Homo sapiens: one gene and its partner. The protein of the gene in region 2 interacts with the protein of the main gene of each other region in a biochemical or structural test. Each region holds a gene or a part of one and is shown on either strand. Other genes may lie near its edges.

Region 1 (3,500 bases), on a different chromosome or scaffold from region 2:
TTTTCAATATTTTAAAAATAAAGCCCAGATTGGTATATAAAATAAGCGAAAGCTGAAATATACAAGAAAATTTAAATAACACGTGTTCTATGGCTTTTTGTGTGTGTGTGTATGTGAGATGGAGTCTTGCTCTGTCACCCAGGCTGAAGTACGGTGGCATGATCTCGGCTCACTGCAACCTCTGCCTCCCGGGTTCAAGCAATTCTCCTGCCTCAGCCTCCTGTGTAGCTGGGATTACAGGTGCATGCCACCACACCCAGCTAATTTTTGTATTTTTGGTAGAGATGGGGTTTTACCATGTTGGCCAGGCTGGTCTCGAACTCCTAACCTCAAGTGATCCACCCGCTTCAGTCTCCCAAAGTGATGGGATTACAGGCGTGAGCCACCGTGCCTGACCACTATTGCTTTTATGTTTGAAACTCATCCGAGGGATTCTTTCTAAACATGATACTTAGTAGTGTAGAAATTAAGTGTATGTAACTTACCTCTGTAATTTCAGGAAATTCATCTTCACTATCAGTTAATTTATGACCTTTTTTTTGTGTTTCTTGGACAACAGTAACAGGAATCTCCTTTTCAAGAGGTACACGAAGATGTAGTTCTACTGAATCATGTACTGAATGTTCCCGCTCCTGCAATCTCTGAAAGATAAAACTTCAGAGTAAGTGGGATAAAGAAATCTGTGGATGTTCCTTGATTTATGATAGGGTTATGTCCCAATAAACCTGTCATAAGTCAAAGAGCGTGCTTAAATGCCCATTGCTTTCGCTTTTTTGTAAAGTCAAAAAATCATTAGTCGAACCATCACAAGTAGGGGACTATCTATATTTGTCTTATGTACAATGAGTAGCACTGACTGGACAGACCAAGAACATTTACGACATATCATAACATGCTATGCTACCATACGATCTTGGAATTACAACAGCAATTACCCAAATCTGGGTAACTTTCCAAAATAGTTTCTACTTTGATGTACTATTTATTTGTAATATTATTCCAATTTTCTTTTTTACCTGGTTTTGAAGCTGTAAGGCCAATGCCTTCTGTTCTTCAATCTGGCGCAATCTTTCTCGTGCTCGAGAATCATAAACACTAGTTCTAGAAAATGAAAAGGAACGTGACCAAATGTAGACCACTCTCATTATGAAACATATTGTTGATGTACACTGAATATTAAATACAGGACCCTCACAAAGAAAGTCTAAAATCCTTACACTAACTTATCATCCTTATTTTAAGACATAGAGTGAAACCACATAATGTTACTGAAATTACTCTACCATTTTTACTTATTATTTTTTATAGAGATAGGGTCTCACTACAGTGCCCGGGCTAGTCTCAAACTCCTGGGCTCAAGCGACCCCCCTACCTTGGCCTCTCAAAGTGCTAGGATTACAGATGTGAGCCATTGCACCCGACCTATTTTTACTGAAATTACTAAAAATATTAGTGTGCTGCTAAATGTGAACAGATGACTTGTTAACATTTGTAAACACACAGTTCTTTTCTTAACATGCTTTTAAGATTATAGTGAAAGCGAAACTTCAGTCTGGAAATCCAAAAATGGGATTGAACCCTAAAGGAGAAACGAATACAAGATATCACTGAAGTTTAATTCAAATACTTCATTTTTGATAGATTTTTAAAAAATTACCGAGACCGAGGGGTTTGGATAACTTAAGTTCCTTAAGTGAGACTAAATGCTTTCAGTGATTTTGCAAAGTCCAGAAATATGAATTATTCAATAAATTAGTTTTACAAATGCCAAAATAGGATCATTTATTTTCCCTATTATATAATAGCTAACTCTATTTTTCCAATTTAATTTAGCTTCAACAATTGTTATAGATTTAATAAACATAAGTATAGAAATGTTCCAACTCCAACAATATTTTGAAAACCCAACAACTTAAAAGTATAAACAGGCACTTCTTTTTTTTTTTTTTTGAGATGGAGTCTTACTCTGTTGCCCAGGCTGGAGTGCAGTGGCGTGATCTCGGCTCACTGCAACCTCCACCTCCCAGGTTCAAGCAATCCTCCCGCCTCAGCCTTCCAAGTAGCTAGGATTACAGGCGCGTGCCACCATGCCCAGCCAATTTTTGTATTTTTAGTAGAGATGAGGTTTCACCATGAAGGCCAGGCTGGTCTTGAACTCCTGACCTCAGATGATCCACCTGCCTCAGCCTCCCAAAATGCTGGAATTACAGGCGTGAGCCACCGCGCCCAGCCTAAACAGGTACTTCTTATTGGCAAAAAATAAGCAGGATGATTAGCTAATTGTTTGATTTCTTCTAACTAAAAATGAACTGATTGAGAAGGAAAAATGATACCAAAAATAACTTACAATTCTTTGATCCACAGCTCTGCCTGGAAGAAAGTAGAACTATGGGTAGGAAAAGAAAAATTTGACAAATGAGCAGGAGGCTTATGAGAAAATTAAAATATTTTCATCAATAAAAACAATCATTTAAATTGTTTATATGAGTGCTTTACAAGTATGGAATAAGTAAAAGGAATCTAAATGACATAAAATAATTGTAACTAGGAATTAAGGAGACACAATCCTTATGCATACATATTAGTTAAAATCATATGGATACATATTAGTTAAAAAGGTGACCCAAAGTTCAGCAGAGATACTACATTTGGCATAGCTCCCTACTTGCATGAGACCAACATTACGTGAAAGAGGACATCACTTCTCAAAATAATACATTAAGCTAGAACATTGCTCTTCCCAAATGACTCAGATTGAAAGATTTATTAAAAATCCCCACACACAAAATAATCTACATCAAATGGCTAACAAGCCAATGAGCCAAAGCAGAGAATCAGCAACACAACTTCCTTCCAAAGATGACAGGCCAATTCTAGGTCCATGTGGCTCTGCTGACAACCCAAGTGATATGCTGAGCAGAGCCACAGACATGATTAATTGTCCTAGAGCCTCTTGTTTTTCTCAAACTTCCTTATCTCCAAACTCCTAACTAGGCAGGATCTATCACAGAAACACAAAGAAGAAGAGTGAACACTTTTCCAAAGAAAACTATTAAATATAGAGAACAAGTAAACAGAGCATCAAATTGGGAGTTAAGAGACCTGGATCAGAGGCCAGGCATGGTGGCTCATTCCTGTAATCCCAGTGCTTTAGGACGCTGAGGTGGGAGAATCGCTTGAGCCAAGAGTTCAAGACCAGCCTGGGCAACATAGTGAGATTCTGTCTCTTAAAAAAAAAAAAATGATCTGCAACTAGAATAGTGCTTGGCACAGAGTAGGCATTTAGTGTTGTTTGTTTGTTTTTTGACTCTCACTCTGTTGCCCAGGCTGGAGTACAGTGGCACAATCTCGGCTCACTGCAACCTCCACCTCTCGGGTTCAAGAGATTCTCCTGCCTCAGCCTCCTGAGTAGCTGGGATTACAGGCACCCGCCACCACACCTGGCTAATTTTTTCTTTTTTTTATTTTTATTTTAGTAGAGACGAGGTTTCACCATGTTG
Region 2 (3,500 bases):
TCTTTCCTAAATTGTCTATTCATATGGTGCTTTTAAAAGTTAGATTACTTTTAGTAGATTTATTAGAGCCGCACAGTTTAGAGTCAGTAGTCAATTAAAGTCCCTACTTAAACTTCAGACTAAGATTTTTTTTTTATTTAATATTTTATTTTTTCTTTTTGCTTTCATGCAGACAGACATCTTGCAAGACTTTAAGATTCTTGGGCCATTTCTGTCAGGTTGTTCTGTGTTCTGTGCCTGCTTCCTCCCCATAGTAATTTCAAAATAGCTATCCTCACCTCTGTAAGGTTTCCAAAATCAAACTTGGGCTTCTGGCTAGCCTTTTCTAGGTCTTGATTTTTCAGTGCTTTCCAGAGGCAATTGTTTGGAACCTCTTGGCACAGTTTCTGTTTCTTTTTCCATGTACAGGCATAAAAGGTCTTTTGGTTGTTTTCTGGTAAAACTATCATAAAACAGTTCAAGCAAATGACTATTGGTAGTTTTGCCATTAACATGGGTGCCTTCTAGTCATTTTGTTTCCTGGTAAAACACACAAAACAGAGGGAGCAGACAGTTTGTACATCAGCATGAGTGTTGATGTGCTTTTTATTTTAAGCCAGGGAACACATTTTATGTTATTTATGACATCCTGTCCATGAATTTGTCAGGTGATTTTTGAGCTGAACATTCTCAGTAATAGCTTTAGTTTACAAAATACAACCTAGTCTTTCTGCAGATTTTCTAGGCCCACTTCAAATGCATTGACCATCAGATGGCATCTTGGTTCCTTACGTCCTTTCTGTGACTGAATGTCCATAATTCCACATCATACTGATCTTTCTTAGAAAAGGCAACAGTTACTTTCTTCTTTATTCCTTTTTTAATGCTTGTGAGGTAGTTGTTCTTGTTGATCACAGCAATGCTATTCTCTTATTCTTCATGTCATATTTAGCAGTTTTTTTCTAGTTTGTCATTTGATAATCTTGATTGGTGTATTTTGATGTACAGAAATTTAAAATTTATGTAGTTAAATCTTTCTTTAATTTCTATTGCCTTTGTATTTATAGCTCTTGCCTAGATAGTCTTAACTGTAGTATAGACTTTAACAGTGTTTTCTTTATTTTCTTTTTGTTTTTTTAGTTGCAACTACTGGCCCTTCAGTATATTATAGTCAGTCACCAGCATATAATTCCCAGTATCTTCTCAGACCAGCAGCTAATGTTACTCCCACAAAGGTAACAAAGGAATAATTTATACATTTATAATTATTTCCTTTTTAAATTGTTTAGGGTTCCTTCAAATAAATTCAAGAGAGCAGTTCACTATTAAAACTTTTATGTCCCTTAAAATGTAGATATTTTAAATTTATCTCCAAATACAGAAATTATCCTTCTTAGTCACCTTATTTTTGTGTTAATAAGTGTGAATATTTAGAATATTTTAAAAATGGGAGTGGTGGTGGTGGATCCTTCATCGTTCTGTTTTAACAGAAATAGAACTGTAATGCCCTTGCTGACCCACTATGTGGTAAGTACTTTCAGGCCTGATACAGCTATATATATAACAATTGATTGAAGACTCAATATTACAGTGGTAGTTGAATGTGACAGCTTTGAGGACAGAGTGTTGGGGTGCATTTAGACCCTTGCTCTTCTGCTTATTTTGACCACAGGCAAGTTTCTTAACCTCTCAATGCATCAGTTGCCTCATATGTAAAATGAGGATAATAATAATACCTTAATTCATAGGGTTTTTGAGGATATTAAAATGAGATAATAATGTAAAGTGCTTAGAACAGTGCCCAGCTGGCACATTAATAAATGCTCAATAAATGTTACCATCATCATCATCATCATCATCATCATCATTAACATCATTTGATAAATTAGGAATGAAGAAGGTATTTATTTTATGACTTTAGCTGTAGATTTTAAGATGCTATACATAATTTTCATTATATGCCAAGTATATATGCAAGTATCTTTGTAGTAATGTGGTTTTCTCTTAACCTACTTATGCCTAGTGCTCCATTATTGGAACACTAAGCTTATGGGAGTTATTTATATCCTACTGCTCAAGGTCATTGCCAAGGTCTGATTTTTCACACAGAAAATTTGCAGCCTCTGGCATAAACGGGTTAATGATGTGTACTACATCCCCTAATGAGATCTTCTTCACTTCATATTCATGTTTGAAGTTTGTGAGAATTGGTTTGCATTTAGTTATCTGTAGTTTTGTAGACAATCTACAAAATGTTTTAACTTTCTGTCTTTTAGGGCCCAGTCTATGGCATGAATAGGCTTCCACCCCAACAGCATATTTATGCCTATCCGCAACAGATGCACACACCGCCAGTGCAAAGCTCATCTGCTTGTATGTTCTCTCAGGAGATGTATGGTCCTCCTGCATTGCGTTTTGAGTCTCCTGCAACGGGAATTCTATCGCCCAGGGGTGATGATTACTTTAATTACAATGTTCAACAGACAAGCACAAATCCACCTTTGCCAGAACCAGGATATTTCACAAAACCTCCGATTGCAGCTCATGCTTCAAGATCTGCAGAATCTAAGACTATAGAATTTGGGAAAACTAATTTTGTTCAGCCCATGCCGGGTGAAGGATTAAGGCCATCTTTGCCAACACAAGCACACACAACACAGCCAACTCCTTTTAAATTTAACTCAAATTTCAAATCAAATGATGGTGACTTCACGTTTTCCTCACCACAGGTTGTGACACAGCCCCCTCCTGCAGCTTACAGTAACAGTGAAAGCCTTTTAGGTCTCCTGACTTCAGATAAACCCTTGCAAGGAGATGGCTATAGTGGAGCCAAACCAATTCCTGGTGGTCAAACCATTGGGCCTCGAAATACATTCAATTTTGGAAGCAAAAATGTGTCTGGAATTTCATTTACAGAAAACATGGGGTCGAGTCAGCAAAAGAATTCTGGTTTTCGGCGAAGTGATGATATGTTTACTTTCCATGGTCCAGGGAAATCAGTATTTGGAACACCCACTTTAGAGACAGCAAACAAGAATCATGAGACAGATGGAGGAAGTGCCCATGGGGATGATGATGATGACGGTCCTCACTTTGAGCCTGTAGTACCTCTTCCTGATAAGATTGAAGTAAAAACTGGTGAGGAAGATGAAGAAGAATTCTTTTGCAACCGCGCGAAATTGTTTCGTTTCGATGTAGAATCCAAAGAATGGAAAGAACGTGGGATTGGCAATGTAAAAATACTGAGGCATAAAACATCTGGTAAAATTCGCCTTCTAATGAGACGAGAGCAAGTATTGAAAATCTGTGCAAATCATTACATCAGTCCAGATATGAAATTGACACCAAATGCTGGATCAGACAGATCTTTTGTATGGCATGCCCTTGATTATGCAGATGAGTTGCCAAAACCAGAACAACTTGCTATTAGGTTCAAAACTCCTGAGGAAGCAGCACTTTTTAAATGCAAGTTTGAAGAAGCCCAGAGCATTTTAAAAGCCCCAGGAACAAATGTAGCCATG

Evidence for each region.
Region 1: of the proteins of RANBP2 (region 2) and SENP1, one has a biochemical effect on the other in vitro, tested with the Homo sapiens proteins (one study listed by BioGRID).

What each region holds. Positions count from the first base shown.
Region 1 is NC_000012.12:48,064,580-48,068,079, forward strand, and holds part of SENP1 (sentrin-specific protease 1), read right to left. Parts: intron 2,387-3,500; coding exon 2,348-2,386; intron 1,102-2,347; coding exon 1,017-1,101; intron 642-1,016; coding exon 486-641; intron 1-485. UniProt on the Homo sapiens protein: Protease that catalyzes two essential functions in the SUMO pathway.
Region 2 is NC_000002.12:108,760,982-108,764,481, forward strand, and holds part of RANBP2 (E3 SUMO-protein ligase RanBP2), read left to right. Parts: intron 1-1,119; coding exon 1,120-1,214; intron 1,215-2,255; coding exon 2,256-3,500. UniProt on the Homo sapiens protein: E3 SUMO-protein ligase which facilitates SUMO1 and SUMO2 conjugation by UBE2I. Involved in transport factor (Ran-GTP, karyopherin)-mediated protein import via the F-G repeat-containing domain which acts as a docking site for substrates.